4 linked regions of the Homo sapiens genome follow. The protein of the gene in region 2 interacts with the protein of the main gene of each other region in a pairwise test. Each region holds a gene or a part of one and is shown on either strand. Other genes may lie near its edges. The genes, in order: WDR31, HIP1, ZNG1C and TCAP.

Region 1 (3,592 bases), on a different chromosome or scaffold from region 2:
AGGAGACGGACTGTAGACAATGAGATTAAGCTTCAATCACTGCTCCTCAGCAATGTGAAGAATCAAAGTCAGGGCAAGAAAGCGAAAGCTTGGACTTCTATTCAAAGTGGCAGCAGAGTGGGAGGGCGGTACCCTTCTAGCCCAGTGCTGCTGAGCTTGTGTGAAAATCAGACCTGAGATGGCTTGAAGCAGCCAAGAACCACATGGGCATTGCCCAGAATTACAGGAGTTAGCACACCAGCTCTACAGATAAGAAAACATTGAAATTCAAAGATTAAGGCCAAAAATATCTCACTTGCAATTTTAATATTTTCATTTGGATTTATATAAATGAAACATATATATGTTTTGGAATGGCCAGAGTGAGGCAAAGGGGATCCCTGAAATAACATTAGAACATACAGGAAAAACGAGGCAGGCAGATCACTTTAGGTCAGGAGTTCAAGACCAGCCTGTACGTGCGTGCCTGTAGTCCCAGCTACTCGGGAGGCTGAGATGGGAGAATCACTTGAACCTGGGAGGCAGAGTTTGCAGTGAGCTGAGATTGTGCCACTGCACTCCAGTCTGTGTGACAGAATGAGACCTTGTCTTGAAAAAAAAAAAAACAAAAAACCACATACAGGAAAAAAGAGAGGGATGGAGTCAACTGTGCCCCAGACATTAAGCCCCCTTCAGTGAGGAGGGGCAAGGTGCTCAGGCCTGCCTGTGTGGCCCCCAGGAGTCAGACCTCAGCCTCATGCTCACTGGTCCATTTTCCTCCAGGGAAAATGGAGTTCTTTCTGCCTTCAGAGATGCCCACACATAAGGCACATGAGGCTGTTGGTGACACCATCACCAACACTGGAGATTCCCTTTCTGACAAGTCCCAGCCAAAGAAAGATTTTGCATTTGTCTTCTCTGTCCTCTGCTTGTCTCTGATACCAGTGACTGACAGCCACCTTCCTTCTTCCCTCTCTTGGTGTGATCATGGCTAACTGCAGCCTCAATCACCAGGGCTCAATCAATCCTCCCTCCTTAGCCTCCTGAGTAGCTGGGACTGCAGGCATGCACCACCACACCTGGCTAATTTTTTGTGTGTTTGTGTGGTCTAAAACTCCTGGGCTCAAGTGATCCATCTGCCTCGGCCTCCTTAAGTGTTGAGATTACAGGTATGAGCCACCACATCCAGCTGAGAGTCTGTTCTTAAGCTAGTACAAAGAGTCAGACCCGACTTTGAATCTCCACTTCTCCATTTAGCTGGATGATCTTGGGCAAGTTATAAAATCTGTTTCCTCTTCACTTTATAACGTGGGTTTCATGATCATACCTCGCCACAGGGCTGTTCTGAAGACTGGACATAGCTATTTTAAATGCCAGGAAAGGCCAGGCGCAGTGGCTCAAACCTGTAATCCCAGCACTTTGGGAGGCCGAGGCAGGAGGATCACCTGAGGTCAGGAGTTTGAGACCAGCCTGACCAACATGGAGAAACCCCGTCTCTACTAAAAATACAAAAATTAGCCAGGCGTGGTGGTGCATGCCTGTAATCCCAGCTACCTGGGGAGCCTGAGGCGGGAGAATCGCTTGAACCCAGGAGGCGGAGGTTGCGGTGAGCCGAGATTGTGCCATTGCACTCCAGCCTGGGCAACAAGAGCGAAACTCCATCTCAATAAATAAATAAATAAGTAAATGCCAGGAAAGGTGGTGACAAATGGTAGCCATAATTATTTATTGTCCTCTCTGTCCAGACTAAATGTTCCCTTTTCCATATTAAACATTTACCATTCTGCCGGACGCGTTGGCTCATGCCTGTAATCCCAGCACTTTGTGAGGCCTAGGCGGGCAGATCACAAGGTCAAGAGATCGAGACCATCCTGGCCAATATGGTGAAACCCCGTCTCTACTAAAAATACAAAAATTAGCTGGGTGTGGTGGTGCCCGCCTGTAGTCCCAGCTACTCAGGAGGCTGAGGCAGGAGAATCGCTTCAACCGGGGAGGCAGAGGTTGCAGTGAGCTGAGATTGTGCCATTGCACTCCAGCCTAGGCAACAGAGAGAGACTCTATCTCAAAATAAAATAAAATAAAATAAAATAAAATAAACGTTTACCATTCCTTGATCCTTTTTTTTTTTTTTTTTTTTGAGATGGAATCTTGCTCTGTCGCCCAGGCTGGAGTGCAGTGGTGCAATCTCGGCTCGCTGCAAGCTCCGCCTCCCGGGTTGACGCCATTCTCCTGCCTCAGCCTCCCGAATAGCTGGGACTACAGGCGCCCGCCATCACGCCCGGCTAATTTTTTTGTGTTTTTAGTAGAGACGGGATTTCACCGTGTTAGCCAGGATGGTCTCAATCTCCTGACCTCGTGATCCGCCCGCCTAAGTGCTGGGATTACAGGCGTGAGCCACTGCGCCCGGCCTCCTTCATCCATTCTTAGATCTTATCCTCTAAACCTTTAGTCATCGTTTCACTCTCCTTTGATTCCTTGTTATGGGTCTTTCAACTCTGGAAAGACAAAGAGATAGTGGGAGAGGAAGCCCGGTCACTGAGCATCTACAGAGGGCTAAATATATTTATTCTCATTTGTTATTCCCAATATTCTCTGTATTGTGATTTCCATTTCACAGATGAGGAAGCTGAGGGCTAGAAACATGCAGTACTTTGCCCAAAGTCACACACATATTAAGAAGAGCTGAGGTATGAATCTGGGTCTGCCTGACTCAAAGCCCAAACGCTTTCCTTTGCATCGTGTCACAAAGTCATAGACCATGACATTGTTTGTATCTTCAAGACCAGTTATTAACTTTCTGGCTCCAAGGAGATCCCCTGCCCAAGTGCCTAGGGGCAGTAGACAGCTGTCTCAGGGACAGTCGTAGCATGTGCTGGATTATTAGTGCAGCAGCTGACACTTTTTCCCAGAAGGGAGAGAGGCAGCAAGTCAGAAAGTTCACGGGAATGAGTTGGGAGGGGGTCCCAGGGAAGGGGGACAGGCTGCCAGGAGAAGGAAAGTACACGGGAGAAAATAGTGGGGCTCTGATGAGTTAGTAGGGTTCTGTTACCAATAAAATTGTTTCCATAAACTGTACATGTGCTTGATGTCAAATTATCTATGCATTTTAAGTAGAAAATAGATTAGTAAATTCTAGTGTTTGTAGAGGACTTTTTTTAGTCTGATATGCCCTAATCAGATACTCTCAGCACCTAAGATACAGGTTGCTAAAATTCATTCATTCCTTGAACATTCATTGAACACTTCATTTTAGAGGCTGCCCTCTAAAATCATATCAAGGAATTTTCCAAAGACAATTTTTTTCCAGGAAGGTGGATAAGCCCTTGGAACCTGGCCAATTGCATATTTAAAATTTAAATAAATGTATACATTTACTTACATATTTATGATTTAAATATATATACTTGAGGGGAAATGGATACTTATTATTAATGTTCTTCATTTTGGCACAGAAAAGTGTAGAACTCGGGTCACTTGGTGTTTTTATAATCCAACAGTGAGATAAAAACTATTTCCAAATGGCCTTCTGAAAACATAATTATTAAAGAGCAGCTTTATTATTAGTAATGTAGTAGACTGTGGCAGGTGCGGTGGCTCATGCCTGTAATTCCAG
Region 2 (7,038 bases):
GGGTTTCTAGGGAACTGGGATTGAAGAAGGGTTACAACTAGATTGGTACTCACCATACAGTTAGGCTAAACATTAGAGTTGTTTTTAGATAGTGATTTCTCAGAGGAACAGAAGATAAGCCCACCTACCATTTAGGCATTTGTAAAGCATCATTCACTTCCAGTAGAAGATCACAGTGAGTAAAGCATAAGAGCTACTGGGATAGATAAATGAATGGGAGAATGGAAAAATTAGAGCAAAGAAGAGAATTGAAATTGAGGGCCAGATAAAGTATGGAAACGGTGAATAATATGGAAGAAGAGGAATTCACAATGCAGCAGAAAGGGAGTAATCAAAATAAGATAGATGTAGGCTGGGCATGGTGTTTCATGCCTGTAATCTCAGCACTTTGGGAGGCCAAGACAGGAGGATCTCTTGAGGCCAGGAGTTCACTACCAGCCTGGGCAGCAGAACAAGACCCCATCTCTATAAAAAAATAAATAAAAATTAAATCTCTGAGAGATGATTAAGAGAAAATCCCACTTAATTTCCCTTACAGGTTAGGGTGCTAGAGCTAGAAAATGAATTGCAGAAGGAGCGTCAAAAACTGGGAGAGCTTCGGAAAAAGCACTACGAGCTTGCTGGTGTTGCTGAGGGCTGGGAAGAAGGTAAGCTGACTCCAAGGATGGGCACTAACCCGCAGCAGGGAGGGGAAGCTGTGTGGCCAGGGCCTTCCCCTAGAATGGAACAGAACAAGGAACCCACCAGATCGGTGGCTTCTTCCTTCTCTTCTCTCCTCATGGAACCTGTTTTCTCTTCCGTTGTAAATAACCTTTAAGCCTAACTTTGGGTGAAGTTATGGTGATTTGAAAGCTTTTGTTGTCACCTTTTAAGACCTAAACATTGATCATAACTCACTCACTGCCATTCCCTCCCAGGCCCAGCTAGCCTTGCCAACTCCCTGGGAATTTAGTTTCTGGCCAGCAGAGAGTTGAAAAATGAATAAATAGTGGTCAGTCGAGATCTGGCAGACAGGGACAAGTGAATTACAAGGTTCTGTCTATCTAGAGCCAGTGAAGGGCAACAATTGCCAAAAGACAGAAGGGATCAGGTGCTAGGCCGGGCGTGGTGGCTCACGCCTATAATCCCAGCACTTTGGGAGGCCGAGGCGGGCGGATCACGAGGTCAGGAGATCGAGACCATCCTGGCTAACACGGTGAAACCCCGTCTCTACTAAAAATACAAAAAATTAGCCTGGCGTGGTGGTGGGCGCCTGTAGTCCCAGCTACTCAGGAGGCTGAGGCAGGAGAATGGCGTGAACCCGGGAGGCGGAGCTTGCAGTGAGCCGAGATCGCGCCACTGCACTCCAGCCTGGGCAACAGAGCGAGACTCCATCTCAAAAAAAAAAAAAAAAAAAAAAGAAGGGATCAGGTGCTGAGAAATGGAGTGGCATGGAGTCACATTCAGGCTGCCAGCCCAGAGACTTGCCATCCATCACCTCGAGTCTATATGTTGTTGTCTGCATGTCGAAAGCAGTCAACTTGATCACAGCCAAGACTGTTCACTCTTAGTGGACTTGACTGACTCTGGGCACCAACCATAGACAGATCCTAGTCATTCCTAGACACGAAACTTGGGGACTATGTGATTACACCATGGTTATAATTATAATGTATTTTTGAGCCCCCATGGTGGCAGGTTTTGTTGGTTAAGTGAATGAATGCATTCATGAGTGCTTTGCAACATAAATTATCATTGTCTTTTAGGAACAGAGGCATCTCCACCTACACTGCAAGAAGTGGTAACCGAAAAAGAATAGAGCCAAACCAACACCCCATATGTCAGTGTAAATCCTTGTTACCTATCTCGTGTGTGTTATTTCCCCAGCCACAGGCCAAATCCTTGGAGTCCCAGGGGCAGCCACACCACTGCCATTACCCAGTGCCGAGGACATGCATGACACTTCCAAAGACTCCCTCCATAGCGACACCCTTTCTGTTTGGACCCATGGTCATCTCTGTTCTTTTCCCGCCTCCCTAGTTAGCATCCAGGCTGGCCAGTGCTGCCCATGAGCAAGCCTAGGTACGAAGAGGGGTGGTGGGGGGCAGGGCCACTCAACAGAGAGGACCAACATCCAGTCCTGCTGACTATTTGACCCCCACAACAATGGGTATCCTTAATAGAGGAGCTGCTTGTTGTTTGTTGACAGCTTGGAAAGGGAAGATCTTATGCCTTTTCTTTTCTGTTTTCTTCTCAGTCTTTTCAGTTTCATCATTTGCACAAACTTGTGAGCATCAGAGGGCTGATGGATTCCAAACCAGGACACTACCCTGAGATCTGCACAGTCAGAAGGACGGCAGGAGTGTCCTGGCTGTGAATGCCAAAGCCATTCTCCCCCTCTTTGGGCAGTGCCATGGATTTCCACTGCTTCTTATGGTGGTTGGTTGGGTTTTTTGGTTTTGTTTTTTTTTTTAAGTTTCACTCACATAGCCAACTCTCCCAAAGGGCACACCCCTGGGGCTGAGTCTCCAGGGCCCCCCAACTGTGGTAGCTCCAGCGATGGTGCTGCCCAGGCCTCTCGGTGCTCCATCTCCGCCTCCACACTGACCAAGTGCTGGCCCACCCAGTCCATGCTCCAGGGTCAGGCGGAGCTGCTGAGTGACAGCTTTCCTCAAAAAGCAGAAGGAGAGTGAGTGCCTTTCCCTCCTAAAGCTGAATCCCGGCGGAAAGCCTCTGTCCGCCTTTACAAGGGAGAAGACAACAGAAAGAGGGACAAGAGGGTTCACACAGCCCAGTTCCCGTGACGAGGCTCAAAAACTTGATCACATGCTTGAATGGAGCTGGTGAGATCAACAACACTACTTCCCTGCCGGAATGAACTGTCCGTGAATGGTCTCTGTCAAGCGGGCCGTCTCCCTTGGCCCAGAGACGGAGTGTGGGAGTGATTCCCAACTCCTTTCTGCAGACGTCTGCCTTGGCATCCTCTTGAATAGGAAGATCGTTCCACCTTCTACGCAATTGACAAACCCGGAAGATCAGATGCAATTGCTCCCATCAGGGAAGAACCCTATACTTGGTTTGCTACCCTTAGTATTTATTACTAACCTCCCTTAAGCAGCAACAGCCTACAAAGAGATGCTTGGAGCAATCAGAACTTCAGGTGTGACTCTAGCAAGGCTCATCTTTCTGCCCGGCTACATCAGCCTTCAAGAATCAGAAGAAAGGCCAAGGTGCTGGACTGTTACTGACTTGGATCCCAAAGCAAGGAGATCATTTGGAGCTCTTGGGTCAGAGAAAATGAGAAAGGACAGAGCCAGCGGCTCCAACTCCTTTCAGCCACATGCCCCAGGCTCTCGCTGCCCTGTGGACAGGATGAGGACAGAGGGCACATGAACAGCTTGCCAGGGATGGGCAGCCCAACAGCACTTTTCCTCTTCTAGATGGACCCCAGCATTTAAGTGACCTTCTGATCTTGGAAAAACAGCGTCTTCCTTCTTTATCTATAGCAACTCATTGGTGGTAGCCATCAAGCACTTCCCAGGATCTGCTCCAACAGAATATTGCTAGGTTTTGCTACATGACGGGTTGTGAGACTTCTGTTTGATCACTGTGAACCAACCCCCATCTCCCTAGCCCACCCCCCTCCCCAACTCCCTCTCTGTGCATTTTCTAAGTGGGACATTCAAAAAACTCTCTCCCAGGACCTCGGATGACCATACTCAGACGTGTGACCTCCATACTGGGCTAAGGAAGTATCAGCACTAGAAATTGGGCAGTCTTAATGTTGAATGCTGCTTTCTGCTTAGTATTTTTTTGATTCAAGGCTCAGAAGGAATGGTGCGTGGCTTCCCTGTCCCAGTTGTGGCAACTAAACCAATCGGTGTGTTCTTGATGCGGGTCAACATTTCCAAAAGTGGCTAGTCCTCACTTCTAGATCTCAGCCATTCTAACTCATATGTTCCCAATTACCAAGGGGTGGCCGGGCACAGTGGCTCACGCCTGTAATCCCAGCACTTTGAGAGGCTGAGGTGGTAGGATCACCTGAGGTCAGGAGTTCAAGACCAGCCTGTCCAACATGGTGAAACCCCCATCTCTACTAAAAATACCAAAAATTAGCCGAGCGTAGTGACGGGTGCCCGTAATCCCAGCTACTCAGGAGGCTGAGACAGGAGAATCACCTGAACCCCAGAGGCAGAGGTTGCAGTGAGCTGAGATCACGCCATTGTACTCCAGCCTGGGCAACAAGAGCAAAACTCCGTCTCAAAAAAAAAAAAAAATTACAAATGGGGCAAACAGTCTAGTGTAATGGATCAAATTAAGATTCTCTGCCCAGCCGGGCACAGTGGCGCATGCCTGTAATCCCAGAACTTTGGGAGGCCAAGACGGGATGATTGCTTGAGCTCAGGAGTTTGAGACCAGGCTGGGCATCATAGCAAGACCTCATCTCTACTAAAATTCAAAAACAAAATTAGCCGGGCATGATGGTGCATGCCTGTAGTCTCAGCTAGTTGGGGAGCTAAGGTGGGAGAATTGCTTGAGCTTGGGAAGTCGAGGCTGCAGTCAGCCCTGATTGTGCCAGTGCACTCCGGCCTGGGTGACAGAGTGAGACCCTGTCTCAAAAAAAAAAAGATTCTGTGTCAGAGCCCAGCCCAGGAGTTTGAGGCTGCAATGAGCCATGATTTCCCACTGCACTCCAGCCTGAGTGACAGAGCGAGACTCCATCTCTTTAAAAACAAACAAAAAATTATCTGAATGATCCTGTCTCTAAAAAGAAGCCACAGAAATGTTTAAAAACTTCATCGACTTAGCCTGAGTCATAACGGTTAAGAAAGCACTTAAACAGAAGCAGAGGCTAATTCAGTGTCACATGAGGAAGTAGCTGTCAGATGTCACATAATTACTTTCGTAATAGCTCAGATTAGAATGGCTACCCCATTCTCTAGACAAAATCAAATTGTCCTATTGTGACTCTTCTAAAAATGAAGATGAAGAGCTATTTAATGACACACCTTGGATTAAAACGGGAATCACATCTTAAAGCTAAAAATGAACCTGCAAGCCTTCTAAATGAGTCACTGAGCATCACTAGTGACAAGTCTCGGGTGAGCGTAAATGGGTCATGACAAGATGGGACAGCAACAAAATCATGGCTTAGGATCGACAAGAAGTTAAAAAACAGCTGCATCTGTTACTTAAGTTTGTAAGACAGTGCCCTGAGACCTCTAGAGAAAAGATGTTTGTTTACATAAGAGAAAGAGGCCAGACATGGTGTCTCACACGTTTAATCCCAGCACTTTGGGAGGCAGGGGCGGGTGGATCACCTGAGGTCAGGAGTTCAAGACTAGCCTGGCCAACATGGTGAAACCCCGTCTCTACTAAAAATACAAAAATTAGCCGGGCATGGTGGCAGGCGCCTATAATCCCAGCTACTGGGGAGGCTGAGGCAGGAGAATCACTTGAACCCGGGGGACAGAGGTTGTAGTGAGCCAAGATCGCACCACTGCACTCCAGCCTGGGTCACAGAGTGAGACTCCATCTCAAAAAAAAAAAAGAGAGAGAGAGAGAAAGAAATAGAAGAGAAGAGCCATCTTGGCAGGGTTATTTTATATCTGAGCAAGGAGTTTAAATGAGACTAGTTTAGATTGTCTGCTGATGCAGCCGTCCATAGCAGTACCCCTAAAATCCCACCAGAATACGGGTCCCTCTAACCCAGTGGCTGGAAGAACCACTGTCTAGAGCAACTTTTCTTGGAACTGTCCCAGCTACCAAGTCAGACACCAAGGTTTATGCCACCAGGTAACACGGGAATCACAGGTACATGTCGCTCCGGTCAGATTAGTTGGCTTTGGCCCCTCGACCCTGTGCAGGAGCTAGTTCTCAGCTTGCAGCTGGAAGTTCCCTCTTAGCTCCTTAGTCTAGAGGGGTCTCCTGGCTCCATTTGACCCTGGTCTTTAATAACCGGTCAGCATCTTGCTACCTTCTACCACCTTTCCAAATCTCTGGAAATCCTGCCAGGGAAAGCCTCCAGTTCCAACATTGGCTTTCCAAGCAAACTGGCTTTGCCCTCTCTCTGCCATCCTTGTCCTCCAGAGACTGCACCACCTGTAGCATAGAAAACCACCACCACGGACCTGCCAGCCATCGGCGCAGCAAACCAGCCAGCTGTTTGCTGCCAAATTCCTTCCTCTCCCAGGTCCAGACCAAATACAAGATCAGCACCACACCGTGGTGTTGTCAGGAGCCAAAGCAACAGGAAACAATTCAATGCTGTTGGGTTCGATTCTGAGAGTAGATTTTTCCAGACATGTCTTTCAGGTGACCCTCAACTACCTCAGGTTTGAAGGCCCTAAATGAAACTGATTACCACTCATAGGGACAAACCGAGGGGGTTCGGTTACATCTTGGTGATAATGCAGTTGTCTCAAACTTATAACAGACTCTTTCACATTTCAGTTTGCAGGGATAGGGTTGGGTTTGTTTTTCTTCTGTTTTTAACCTTTCCCCTGGGTTTCCATTAGGGTAGTTCCTTGAAATGAATTTCATTTTTCACTGAGTGCCTACCTTCCCAGGGCAGGTGGCCACTGGCTTCTGTTTCCCTCCAACAATACTTTTATTATGGTATTAAGACCTTTCTTTGTATAATACATTGCATCTGTGTTTTCAATTTTTCAAATAAATATTTCCGCCTGGCAATGGAGCGTGGTGGTGATTGACCAGCCAGCGTGGCTCTGAGGTATAGGCTCCAGTGAGAAGCCTGCATTTGTATCCTGGGGTTCATGGAATCCACTTAGCCCCACACCTCTGGGAATATATCTTAGAAATATTAGTTTTGAGCCGGGTGTGGTGGCTCACACCAGTAATCCCAGCTCTTAGGGAGGCAGAGGCAGGAGGATAGCTTGAGCCCAGGAGTTAAGAGACCTGCCTGGAAAATATAGTGAGAAGCTGTTCTCCACAAAAAGGAAAAAAAAAAAAGAAATATTAGTTTGATATTGGGCATGGTGGCTCATGCCTGTAATCCCAGCAATTTGGGAGGCTGCAGTGGGAGGATCACTTGAGTGC
Region 3 (7,648 bases), on a different chromosome or scaffold from region 2:
TGGGAACAAGGAAACAGTATAGAAAAAAAAACTGATTGGTTAACATCAGATTACTTTTTTATTTTTTTGTCACCCAGGATGGAGTGCAGTGGCACAATCTTGGCTCACTGCAACCTCACCTTTCGGGTTCAAGCAATTCTTCTGCCTCAACCTCCCAAGTAGCTGGGACTACAGGCGTGTGCCACCACACCCAGCTAATTTTTGTATTTTTAGTATAGACGGGGTTTTGCCACGTTGGCCAAGCTGATCTCAAGCTCCTGACCTCAGGTGATCCACCCGCCCTGGCTTTCCAAAGCGCTGGGATTACAGGCATGAGCCACTGTGTCTGGCTGAGATTGCTTTTTTGTAAGTAATCTGTTGTTACTTTGGGTTACTTTTCTGTAAGGGATAGAGCAGAGGGGACTTCCTTATTATACTGGAATCTTCTGTCTTCAGGAGAAGAAAAAAAAAAACTCGTCTATTTTGGGACCTGTTTTTTAAAGTTTTAGTTTGATTTTGTGGTGCTTAGCATGAGCGACTCCATTTTGGTTTGGTCTGGTCTGCTTGGGATTAGTGCAGGAGCTCAGTCCAAAACAATGGCCTCTCATAATTTTGTTTAATACATGAAATTCAAATTTCAAACTTGTAGACATTTGCTCTCTCTCTTATTATATAAGTACCTACACAATGTCCTCAAATTTGCTTTTTGATCTGTAAAGACTAAGATATTTATCATCTAGTTTTACAGAAGAGTTTGCAGATCTTCTGGTTTAAAAGAGCAGGAGATTTAGTGTCAGGCAGGTTTGGATTGAGCCCAAGGGCTGCCATTTACTGATTGTATGACTTTGAGCAAGGTATTTATCTTTTCTAAGCCTCAATTTCCTCATCTATAAAATGGGCACACAAATAGTATTTACCTTGGAGAGTTAAATGGGATAATGCATTTAATGTGCTTAACACAGTGCCTATCAGATGCTTAGGGGCTCAAAACATTATTATTGTTGTTGCTGTTGTTGTTTTACCCTAAAGTAAATGAGACAAAATAGCAAAGCTAGATGAGGAGGAATTTTTAAGATACATCAGAAACTGTAATAGATTCTAAAATATTATAATTAAGAAATTTCATACTTATTTAAAAAGGCATTTTCAATTTAACAATTTAACAATTTAACCCTCTTATAAGTTAAAAAAAAAAAAAAAGCCCGGCACAGTGGCTCACGCCTGTAATCCCAGCTCTTTAGGAGGCTGAGGTGGATGGATCAGGAGGTCAGGAGTTCAAGACCAGCCTGGCTAACGTGGTGAAACCTCGTCTCTACTAAAAATACAAAAATTAGCTGGGGGTGGTGGTGCATACCTGTAATCCCAGCTACTCAGGAAGCTGAGGCAGGAGAATCGCTTGAACCCGGAGGCAGAGGTTGCAGTGAGCCAAGATCGTGCCACTGCACTCCAGCCTCGGCAACAGAGCAAGACTCCATCTCAAAAAGAAAAAAGAAATAAAAATAAAAAGTCATGCCCAGCTATTTTGGGAGAACTGAAATTACAACTCTATCTGAGAAAATAAAATGACAGGACTCCACAGAATCCATAGATAAAAACTTAACTGAAGAGGAATATGGAACAGACTAAAGGAAAAATTTTATCAAGCTGTAATCTTTATACTTGTGCCTAAGGCCAGAACTTGAAACTGCTGAAGACAGTGTTTCTCTACAAATGCACACAGGCACCCCATTTTGATGCACAGATAGGTGTTTATTTCTTTTAAGAATAGCAGCTTTATTGAGATAAATTTCACATATGATACAATTCACCAATTTAAAGTGTACAAGTCAATGGTTTTCAGTATAATCAGAGTTGTACTACCATCACCATAATCAATTTTAGAACATTTTCATCACCGCCCAAAAACCACTGTAGTCTCTCCCCAGTCCTCCACTCCTGGGAACCATTAATGTACTTTCTGTCTCTATAGATTTGCCTATTTTGGTTATTTTATATAAATGGAATCATACAACATGTGGTCTTTTGTGAATAGCTTTTTTCACTTACCATAATGTTTTCAAGATTGATTCATTTTGTAGCAGGTATCAGTCCTTTTTCCTGTTTATTGCCAAATAATTTTCCATTGTACGGATAGATCATATTTTGTTTATCCATTTGTCACATTTTGGTTGTCTATCAGTTGATAGATATTTGTGGTGCATTTAATTTTTGGCCAATGTGTAAAACTTATTTTGCTCTCATTGAGGCTACATACTGTTACAACAATGCTATTTGGTCAACTTGACTGAGCTGGCCTCATAGGTTACAGGTTGTTCATTGTTAGAGATGAGACTTTAGACCAGACTGGACAACATAGTGAGACCCTGTCTCTACCAAAAAGAAAAAGAAAAATTAGCCAGATGTAATGGCATATGACTGGAGTCCCAGCTACTTGGGAGGCTGAGATGGGAGGATCACTTGAGCCCAGGAGTTTAGGACTGCAGTGAGCTGTGATCGTGCCAATGCAATCCATGCTGGGCGACAGAGTGAGACCCTGTCTCAAAAAACAGAAAGAGGGATTTTAGTATAACATTCAGCCAGTGCCATATTGGGAACCCACAAGAATGTACTTTTAAAAATATGTCAAAGAAGATGGTGAGGGCTGTAATAGCTGCTATTCAGGCAGTAATGCAGTGCTGAAGGGACATCAAGCAAATAGTGTGATGCCTGTGGGTGCAATGTTACTCCTTCCCTTAGGTTGCCAAAAAAATCAATACTTCATAGCATTCCTGAAACGAAAAAGCTTATGAACCATTGTGTTTAGGGCGTAAGCTATCTATTTTGGGCTACCCATCACAGCTTCTCTCCTTTGGCAGAATACAGTGAACTGAACCACCACACCTAAGGTATTTGCCTTATTTCTTCCTCAGCTGGTTCATGGTTACATTGTCAAAGCTGGCAAAGCATTCAAGACCTGATTTCTCAGACCGAGTGTATGTGTGAATATAATATACTCATTTGCACAAATATAAACCCTCTGTCTTAACTGTGTTCTGCAAAAGGCGTGATAAATACTTTCAAGTTATATGTACTTATCAGTAGAACTAATGGAATACACACAGTATATTTTATGGGGAATTTCAGAGAAGGAAGGAAAAGTCAACCTTTTATTTGGCATCAGGATAGTAGTAAAACATTCTACTTGTGCATCAGATAGATTTTTATGACCTAACCTGGACAAGTAACTTAACTCTTGGTGCCTCATGTTTGAAAGAGGGATAACACTCTACAGGGTCATTCTAAGAATTACATATTGCCAAAACACATGAAAAGATTCTCAACCTTGTTAGTAATCAAGGAAATGCAAATGAAGATCACAATGAAGTCTTCTTTTGTACTCAATTGATTGGTGAAAAATGCATGCCTGATAATATTGACATACAGACCAATGAGATCTCTTATAATTTGCTGGGAAAATGTATCAATTTGTACAAACATTTTGAAAAATAATTGTGCATTTTCTTGTGAAGTAAAACATTTGAATAATCTAGGACCCAGCAATTCAACTCTTAGACACTCAAGAGGAAGTTGCACACACATATGTCAGGAAAAATGTTCATAGCAGCCCTGTTCATAAGAGCAAAACCTGGAACAATTGAGAGGAAATGAATAAATTGCCGTGTAGCCACACAATAGAATACAAGACAGCAGTGATGCTGAAAAATATAGCAAGCCTCAGGAGTTTATATATTATATGGATAATTTTATGAAGCTCAAAAACACCCAAAATTAAACAACATATTCTCTAAGTACATACGTGGGATATGTGATAAAACTAAAAAGAAAACAGGGAAGGATCAGCAATCCAGAACCAATTCATGACTGTTGTTACTATCTTATGGGGCAGGCTGTGGATTGGAAGCGGGGGCGGTGCACATAGGTACGTGTAGCTTACTGGTAATGCTTTTATGTTAGGAATGAGGTCAAAGGAGTTCACTATAAATTTATATTAGAAAGAAGGGCTATCTATGGATTAGTGATGAGAGTGTCATGCACCAGCAAATATGATTAATGAACTTAGGTTACCTGAGGTCCAAATAAATAATGAGAAAAAAGTAAATAAAAGTGATGCATGAATACTAAAAATTTGGAATTACATATATAATATGTAATAATAAAAAAAGAAAAAATTGTCACTGGTTATCCTTCAGGTATAAAAATTACAATTAAAATTGTAATGTTATAACCTTCCATTCTTTCCCCTATGAATTAAAACTTTTTTTTTTAACGAGACTAAAAAATCAAGTTGATAAAATCTATGCCCTGTGGGAACTGGTTAGGTCAGGCTACCCACTCCAGATTTCCAGCAGGCTGGCCTCAGCTCTACCTACAGCCAGTAGCTTATTAAGGCTCTAGGCGCCAGTGACACCTTCAGACAGGTGGTTAGTGCGCCCTAAGGACTCTCCGCAGCGTCGCTCAGGTTCACAGAACACGCCCAGGGGCGTGTCCAGCTGTCGTCGGGGAGAGCCCACCTCCCCGGGGGGTGTGGCTAAGGGACGAGGCAGTTCTCGTCCAGAGCCCAGGTAATCCGGGCGGGATCAGCTAGCGTCGCGATGTGATGACGTCAGGCCCCGGCCAGGCCGGGAGTGGCGTGCTGGGCGTGCGCGGCTGCGGTACGGCGTGTTGGTCCCAGCGGTTCAGCTGAGGTAGGGACGTGCTGTAGGCCGGAATGTTACCGGCTGTTGGATCTGTGGATGAGGAAGAGGATCCTGCGGAGGAGGATTGTCCTGAATTGGTTCCCATTGAGACGACGCAAAGCGAGGAGGAGGAAAAGTCTGGCCTCGGCGCCAAGATCCCAGTCACAATTATCACCGGGTATTTAGGTAACTAACCATCCCAGTCACAAAATGCCGTGAACTCTGGTGTCATGGGATTTTGCGGGCTGCCGGTGCCTCTTCTCCTGAGGCATTGGGGCCTCATGATCAAGAGCAAATGTCTTTGAGGTAGGGGCTGGGTCACTTGCTTCTCGTATGGGTTACCTCTCATCTTGGGAGTTAATGATGCCCGGTCCCCTCTGCGTTAGATTCCCATTTCTCAAGTGAGATGGAAAGTTAGCCTTTGAAACAAGGCTTTGAAGCTAAGACACGCCCCCCTAATTGTCTCTGTGACCTCTTACCAAGTTATCTTACCTTCCTGACGCTCATCTACCTCACCTGAAAATGGAAAAATACCTGTCACCTGTGAAATAGGGCCGGAACAACCTACCTATTGCCATTAAAGGATGTCCCGTCTGTAAAATGCCCGACACGTGGGGCTTTCGTCAGCAGATTCCCCTTCCCCAGGAGCCAAAGTCCTCCAGCCAGTTGGCAGGAAGTGCTCCTATCTTAAACACTTTTCTTTTGAGGTCTGTTTGTAAACCACTGCGTAGGAAGTAAGAATAAAATCTCTGTCCTCCAAGACTATTTCTCAAACTAAGAACGTTTAGAGTGTACAGGGATACTCGAAACCACAAGTTTGTGAACTTGGTAGTTTCGTGAAGGGCGGTTTATGCACTTACACTAGAAGTTTCTTACTGGAAAAGTTTGAGAAATATATTTTTAAACCTTACAGTTAAATAGAAGGGCTAGAACAAATATATGACTGTATTAGAAGTTTGGAAAAAGTTAAGAAATGTAAATAAAATAATACTGTTTCCGGGAAATAATATTCCTAGTTGTTGCTAGAGACAGGTACAGACTTGGGCCACTTCGTGACCTTTTATGTAAAAATAAGAAATAACTGCTTTTGTTTTTTTAAAAACTTTGTAGACTGTAAGTTTATTCCCGTTTTTTGCTCGGAAGTAATTTTATAAAGGAATTTATTTTTGGCGTTTCCCCACAGTTATTCAGAGGCTGCTCTACTGAGAAGATGAACAAATTTCTTGTCCAAAACAATGTATTTCAAACGTGCCCCTCGGGCCTTTCCCGTGTTGCTCACTGGTAGGTCAGTAGATCATTGGAGAAAATGATCTGAAGCTCAGGAGTGAGAATTAATACCAGCAACCTTGTTGCTGAATCTAGGGATAGTTTCACTCCTATCCCTGACCATTTTCCCTTTTTGAAACACTGTTCCTTTGGCTTCTATTACATTTTTCTTCTGATTTTTCCACCTGCTTCTCTGGCTTCTTTTTAAGGCTCCCTCCTCCTTCCCCCTTTGTCCATCTTTAGCTACACACCTGTGTAATTTCTATTTTGATGTCCTACAACTTAAAACTTAACATGTCTGAAACTTCGTCTGTTACCATCCCCCCAAATCCTGCTTCTGTGATCCCAACCATTTGGAATACTCTAAAAGCCTCCTGACTAATCTGGAGTCTTGCTGCCCTTTAATTTATTCGTTGCATGTTAGCCTTAATGATCTTTATAAATGTCAATCCGACTGCGTCACACCTTTCAGTGGCGTCCCTATGGGTTAAAATTCAAATTCCTTAACATGAATTACAAGGACCTGTAGGATCTGGATCTTGCCAACCTTTCCAGCCTGCCAAATTGGCCCCGCACAATAAACTAAGGTTACTTCAAAGGTGCCAAGTGTTTTAGCCCCTTGGAATAGGTACTTTTTTACTGTGACTCCTCTGGCTAGATGTCCCTCTTAGGTTCTCCATAGCATTTTGTGCATCTCCTATTGAATATGTCACCCTGTGACATAATTGCCTCCTTATTCACTGAATTCCCCTCCATTCCCCCCTTCCCTTAATATTTCTAAGCTCTATGAAGGCAGAGACTATCTTGTTCACTTTTTCACCAAGGCCCAGCATAAATCTGTAACGTATTAGAAACCTTTGAATGAATGAACTATGTCTTAAAGTGTTTTTTTTTTTCATAATATGGTTAAAAAGCCCTAGTAAATCTTCTCTTAGAAGATTTCTTACATTCACCCTTTCCTTTCAGTTTTCACATCACTGCCCTGTGAAACACTCATGTTCAGGGCCTCTGTCTCAGGCTTGGACTGGTTTTAAGATCTTCCTCATTGCCCTAAGTCTCTCTCTTCCATACTATACTTCATATTTTTGTGATGTTGAGCTTCCTAAAGTACTCTAAATATAAGCCTTCATCTCTTAAAAAGCTTTGAAAGGAATATGACCTAAAAGATATTAATACCCTAATACTCCGTAAAATCTTCCTAGTTGTAGGAAGATCTAGTTATATACTAGAAAACTTTATTTCAGAAGACATGTATAGCCTACATGTAAAAGTTTTTAGCAGCACTGTAATAGTAAAACACTGGAAACAAACCAAATGTCCAACAAAAAAAAAGATAAAGAAATGATATAGTCATACAATTGAACTACAATACTATGCAGTTAGGATTTTCTTTTTTTCCTCTATGAATTTTAGTGTGTACGGTTCACAAGACTTTTTTTTCTACTGGAGATTGACATATTGGGTTTCATATGCCACCTGCTGGATAAAGTTGGTATAGCTTTATGAATTTATCTTAACTGAACATTCTGTTCATTGTTGACACTACCTGGCTCTATTCCCCATTTCATAAAAACTTTTATAGATTGTTTAAAGCATACTATAAGTAGCCATATAGTCAGCCTGAAGTTGCGTCTCGTTAATGTTGAAATAAAAGGTCACTATAAATAAAAGATTGTGTGTCAATTTTAGGGAAGGTTAGGCTAGGTTGAAGAAACTGTTTCAACTTG
Region 4 (5,809 bases), on a different chromosome or scaffold from region 2:
ACAGCTGGAACCAAGCCACCAAGGCTGGACGGGATGTGCGGCGGTGGCTGGCTGGGGTAGACCATGGATGGGGACCCGTGCAGGGAAGGGGCCTGAGAGCCATGTGCTCACTCTGGGCTGATTGACCTGAGCAGGAGGCTCTATGCTCTGGGTTTCATCTTCCTGCCTAAGGAGACTCGGGTCCCCTTTCGTCCTCCTCACCCTGTCCTCACTCCGTCATCTTTCTCTGGAGTGGCTCAGGAGTTCCCCCAAAGATAAAGGGATTATGGCCTTCCCGCATCTGTGCCTGGGCTTCTGGAGTCTTCCCTTTTGTCCAGTCAGGCTGTGGTGCTGCGGGTGGCCCCCTCCCATAGACCCCACTCTTCCCCATCCCCTCCTGGGTTCCAGCAGGAGCACTGTTCTTTGAATAGGATGCCAGGCTCTGCTTTGGGCACTGGACAGACTTGCTGGGTGCAGGGAAGCTCACTTCCTCTCTGGATGCCAACTTCCTTATCTGCAGAATGGGCTTAGGTGTGCTCAGTGGAGCTGAGGGAGAATGAAATGGTGATGGGATGTGAACCGTGCCTCCCAGGCTTAGCCTTCTCCTGAGCAGGTGTCCCCTCCTGAAGGGGAAGGGGTAAGAAGCGCCAGCCCAGCCTACTCTGCCATAGCAGGGCTGACCTAGAATCTCTGGACAGAGTGTATGAGGGCTGGGAAGGTGGTGAGCTCTCTGTCCCTGGGGGTGTGCAAGCACCAACAGGCCGTTGTAGGAGGATTCAAGCATCACAGAGTGGGTGGGGGTGGAGGGCCGATTCTGCAGCCCATGGGACACCTGTGCTAAGCCTTGTTCAGATAGGGTAGCTCTGCCTTTCTGCTTCCAGCCCAGTCCCAGCTGGGCCAAGAATGGAGTGTGAGTGGTAGGGGCTGCGGGGGGGTGTCAGGGCCTCACTCTGTTCCAAAGTCCCCCCAATGATGCCTCTTTCCATAGGGGAGAGAATGGCCCTGGGGGCTTCATCGTGCTCAAGTCGGCCAGTAACCCCCGTGTTTGCACCTTTGTCTGGATTCTTAATACAGATCTCAAGGTGGGGTGCTGGGGGGCTGCCAGGTGGGTTCTGTGGAGTGGAGGGGACCCTGCTGCTGACTTGGTTGCTGCATGACTTTGGGGGCTCTCTGCCATGCCTGGGCCTCCCCTTTGTCAGCCACCTTTCTTACTTGAAAATTTGGGTCAGGGTCCAGATGGTCTCTTAGCCCTGGGTTGCTGTAGGGCATGTGCCCCCCCTTCTTACCTCTGAGTCCTGAGGCCCTGAGGAAGGGTGGCTGGTGGCCAGCCCGGCCCCACCCTGGTCTGTTTGTGTTGCTGGTGCCAAGAGCCAGGCCCAGCATGTTCTTCCTGCCAGGGGTGAGTGGGAGAGGGCGACCCAGGCTGGATTCCAGAGCTGCACCTGCATTCTGGCCCAGAGCCCCCCTGCTGGTGCCAGCTGCAAGGGGAGACCCTGCTGAGGGCAGGCCATCAAGTGTGACTTCTGCCTGCCTTCCCCCAGGGCCGCCTGCCCCGGTACCTCATCCACCAGAGCCTCGCGGCCACCATGTTTGAATTTGCCTTTCACCTGCGACAGCGCATCAGCGAGCTGGGGGCCCGGGCGTGACTGTGCCCCCTCCCACCCTGCGGGCCAGGGTCCTGTCGCCACCACTTCCAGAGCCAGAAAGGGTGCCAGTTGGGCTCGCACTGCCCACATGGGACCTGGCCCCAGGCTGTCACCCTCCACCGAGCCACGCAGTGCCTGGAGTTGACTGACTGAGCAGGCTGTGGGGTGGAGCACTGGACTCCGGGGCCCCACTGGCTGGAGGAAGTGGGGTCTGGCCTGTTGATGTTTACATGGCGCCCTGCCTCCTGGAGGACCAGATTGCTCTGCCCCACCTTGCCAGGGCAGGGTCTGGGCTGGGCACCTGACTTGGCTGGGGAGGACCAGGGCCCTGGGCAGGGCAGGGCAGCCTGTCACCCGTGTGAAGATGAAGGGGCTCTTCATCTGCCTGCGCTCTCGTCGGTTTTTTTAGGATTATTGAAAGAGTCTGGGACCCTTGTTGGGGAGTGGGTGGCAGGTGGGGGTGGGCTGCTGGCCATGAATCTCTGCCTCTCCCAGGCTGTCCCCCTCCTCCCAGGGCCTCCTGGGGGACCTTTGTATTAAGCCAATTAAAAACATGAATTTAAAAAAAAAAAAAAATTCCAGCCCCTCCCACTGCCTTGCCTCTTGAGGGAAGAGAAAGGCAGGCAGCAGCTTGGATGAAGAGGGAAGACCCCTCACACAGCCTCTCCTGGGCTCACAGGAGGGCGGAGCCCGGGGAGCCAGTTCCTGAAACATGCCCCCCATTCCCCCCCCGCCCACCCCCCACTCCCCGCTTTCCTGACCAGTTCAACTGAGCAGATGACTGGTCAGAAAAAAATGCCCCGCCCCCTGCCAGGCTTCAGCGGGGCAAGTTTAAAGTCTCTAGTCCAGGAATGGAGGTGGGGGTATGGGCACCTGGCAGTGCCCACAGCAAGCCTTGACTGTGTGGCCTGGAGATGGGGCCTGAGCTTCAGGGTCACTGAGGCACCTCTGGGATCCAGGCCACCTGGAGCCCCGGACCTCCCAGACTCCACTCACCCATTCCCTCTCCCCGCACGGCACTCACACCAGGGGCGGCCTGGAGCCCGGATCGCAGGGCGGGGCCAGGCCACTGCCTGCCTTCCTCCTCCCTCCCGGCTGGCCTGCCCCCTTGCCTGCCTGCATGCAGGCTTCCAGCAGAGCCAGCTTCTTCAGAGCCAGGTGGATCCTGTTTCGGTCCTGCCTAGGTGTGTGACCCTGGGCGAATCTACCTCTCTCAGCTTCTGCTTCCCACTTTATGAAAATGGGACTGATGTCACAGGGTTGTTATGAGATTAAAAGATATGAAGAACCGGGGACAGTGCTCAGTAATCAATAGTCTGCAGTTCTGCACCCACGTGCTCCTGGGTACTCTGCCGTCCCCACAGGGTCCTCAGCTCAGCCCCTGTCACTGCCTCTCCTGCCACCCTTTGTCCACTCGGCAGTGTTCTCACTCCTCATCCCCCCACACCCACCACCTGTCTGCCAGCCTCTTGCACCATGAGTTGCTACTCCTGGGGTGCTGGACTGTCCCCACAGCCATCTGTCTCCCCTGCTCCCCATGAAGAAGAGCCAGTCCCCTCCCAGGTAGCACATCAGAGCGGGCAGGCTCCAGAGCTCTTCTGGTCCTCTTGCAGTGGCCAGAAAGTGGGGAAAGGGGCCCAGAGAGGGGCAGGGACTGACCCATGGTCACACAGCCTATTTATGGCTGATCTGGAGCCAGGCCTTCTGACTATCACCCATCAGAGCCCCTGGATTCCCATTTCACCCAACACAGGTGTTGGGGTAGAACTGGGGGCCCTCCACCCCTACTAGCCTGACTGTCTCCTGAGACCTGTCTCCTAAGACCACTTACCTGACCACTGGCCATGGGGAAGGAAAACACCTGGCCAAGGCTCATGCCCCAGGTTCCCAGGCATGAAGTTGACTGTCTCCGCCCCTGCTGGTGTGGTGAGGGTGACTGGGGACTAGGCACTAGGCCTTTGGTGCAGGCGCCTGAGGACGTGGTTGCACTCTCCCTTCTGGGGATATGCCCTTGAGCCCAGGCAGAGGAGAGCACAGCCAGGGCAGGACCTGGCAGCCCTGGTACAGAGCCCAGAGGGGGCATCAGTTCCTGCTGGTCCTGCTCTGTTTACAGACAAGCTGCTGTCCTCCCTGCAAAGGGGAGTGGGTGGGGCAGAGGGCAAGTGCCAGGGGGGCACAAGGCTGGGCATGTGGCTGGCATGAGACGGTGTCTGAGTAATGTCAGGCACCTGGAGGCATTGACCCCAGGACCTTGGACCCCAGACCTCTGACCGGGGGGCAGCCAGCGTCCAGGTACCCCAACCCCTGCCCTGGGTCCGGCGTCCCCCCATTAGTGAGTCTTGGCTCTACTTATAGCATCTGACACCAGAGGGGCCGAAAATAGCCCCTGGAGAAGGGGGAGGAGGGGGCTATTTAAAGGGCCTGGGAGGGGAGAGAGAATGAGGAGTGATCATGGCTACCTCAGAGCTGAGCTGCGAGGTGTCGGAGGAGAACTGTGAGCGCCGGGAGGCCTTCTGGGCAGAATGGAAGGATCTGACACTGTCCACACGGCCCGAGGAGGGGTGAGTGTGGGTCTGCTAGAGCCCTGCCTCTGCTCCCCCAGAGCACCCTCACTGAGCCATGAGGCCAGAGCATGAAGCCCTGGAGAAATTTCTGGGGGTGGGGGCAGGAAGAATGCCCCATGGGGAGAGCAAAGGGGAACCACCCTTCCTGCCCCCAGGTCCCAGCAGCCCAGGGGAGCCCCCCACCCAGCCTGTGCCCAGAGAGCAACAGCTCCCAGGAGCTCACTGCCCCTCCCCTCTCCCCAGCTGCTCCCTGCATGAGGAGGACACCCAGAGACATGAGACCTACCACCAGCAGGGGCAGTGCCAGGTGCTGGTGCAGCGCTCGCCCTGGCTGATGATGCGGATGGGCATCCTCGGCCGTGGGCTGCAGGAGTACCAGCTGCCCTACCAGCGGGTACTGCCGCTGCCCATCTTCACCCCTGCCAAGATGGGCGCCACCAAGGAGGAGCGTGAGGACACCCCCATCCAGCTTCAGGAGCTGCTGGCGCTGGAGACAGCCCTGGGTGGCCAGTGTGTGGACCGCCAGGAGGTGGCTGAGATCACAAAGCAGCTGCCCCCTGTGGTGCCTGTCAGCAAGCCCGGTGCACTTCGTCGCTCCCTGTCCCGCTCCATGTCCCAGGAAGCACAGAGAGGCTGAGAGGGACTGTGACTTGGGCTCCGCTGTGCCCGCCCTGGGCTGGGCCCTTCCTGGCTAGGACTGTGGAGGGGAGCTGCTGGCCATGGCTGCTTTGTAGTTTGCCCAGAGTTGGGGGCTAGGGGAGGGGGGAGCCAGAGGCCAGGATGCCTGAGCCCCCTGAGTTCCCAAAGGGAGGGTGGCAGAGACAGTGGGCACTAAGGGTGGAGAGTTGGGGGCCAGCACAGCTGAGGACCCTCAGCCCCAGGAGAAGGGACAAAAGGTACTGGTGAGGGCAAGAGGTGCCTGGGAGGAGTGGCCCTGATCCAGGAAAATGTGAGGGGAATCTGGAACGCTCTAGGCAGAAGAAGCTGGGAGGGAGGGGGAGGTGAAAAGGGCAGAGGCAAGGATGGTGGGGCCCCCAGCACCCTCTGTTAGTGCCGCAATAAATGCTCAATCATGTGCCAGAGTTGCATCTCTTTCCTTGTGGTTGGGGGGGCTGGCCCATGGGTGTCCCCTCAATGCCCACTTCTGGGACCAGGCTCCGCATCTGAGCTAAATATGGCAGAGCTAATGGGTACACCCCATACTTGGGGTGGGGGTGGGGGCAGGACAGAGCTGTAAACAGGGTGCTGTCTCCAGTCTCCTTCCCGTACCCTGACCGCTGCCCAGTCCTGGCTTCTGTGTCCAGCCCCCTGGCACTGGGTGGTAACCAGCAAGCCAGCTGGCATCCGCATCCAGGGTTTGTTTCAATGATGTCTCGTGGAGAATATGGAGGGGCTGGTGCCAGGACTGTCCTTGGCTTTGCCTCGGGGTGTGAACGGGGTCAGTGACCTCTAAAACTAACCTGCCTCTCAGTTCTGAATCCAGACAGAATCAATCCTCAGCTGTGTCTCGCTCCACACCCCCTGCCCTGGAAGCCAGGGAAGGTTGGAGGTGCTAGGGGGTCAGGCTCCCCTCTGTGACCCCTGCAGCTGTTGTGGTGACTCATGTCCCAACCTAGCTGC

What was found.
Region 1: the proteins of HIP1 (region 2) and WDR31 interact in binary tests that used the Homo sapiens proteins (3 or more experiments, as listed by UniProt).
Region 3: the proteins of HIP1 (region 2) and ZNG1C interact in binary tests that used the Homo sapiens proteins (3 or more experiments, as listed by UniProt).
Region 4: the proteins of HIP1 (region 2) and TCAP interact in binary tests that used the Homo sapiens proteins (3 or more experiments, as listed by UniProt).

The regions. Positions count from the first base shown.
Region 1 is NC_000009.12:113,312,684-113,316,275, reverse strand, and holds the end of WDR31 (WD repeat-containing protein 31), read left to right. Parts: 3' UTR 1-3,054; downstream 3,055-3,592.
Region 2 is NC_000007.14:75,532,932-75,539,969, reverse strand, and holds the end of HIP1 (huntingtin-interacting protein 1), read left to right. Parts: intron 1-538; coding exon 539-647; intron 648-1,745; coding exon 1,746-1,798; 3' UTR 1,799-6,672; downstream 6,673-7,038. UniProt on the Homo sapiens protein: Plays a role in clathrin-mediated endocytosis and trafficking. Involved in regulating AMPA receptor trafficking in the central nervous system in an NMDA-dependent manner. Regulates presynaptic nerve terminal activity.
Region 3 is NC_000009.12:68,237,345-68,244,992, forward strand, and holds the start of ZNG1C (zinc-regulated GTPase metalloprotein activator 1C), read left to right. Parts: upstream 1-4,638; 5' UTR 4,639-4,687; coding exon 4,688-4,841; intron 4,842-7,648.
Region 4 is NC_000017.11:39,661,284-39,667,092, forward strand, and holds TCAP (telethonin), read left to right. Parts: upstream 1-4,065; 5' UTR 4,066-4,076; coding exon 4,077-4,186; intron 4,187-4,432; coding exon 4,433-4,826; 3' UTR 4,827-5,271; downstream 5,272-5,809. Other genes in the region: STARD3 (stAR-related lipid transfer protein 3), read left to right, coding at 968-1,084, 1,521-1,770. UniProt on the Homo sapiens protein: Muscle assembly regulating factor. Mediates the antiparallel assembly of titin (TTN) molecules at the sarcomeric Z-disk.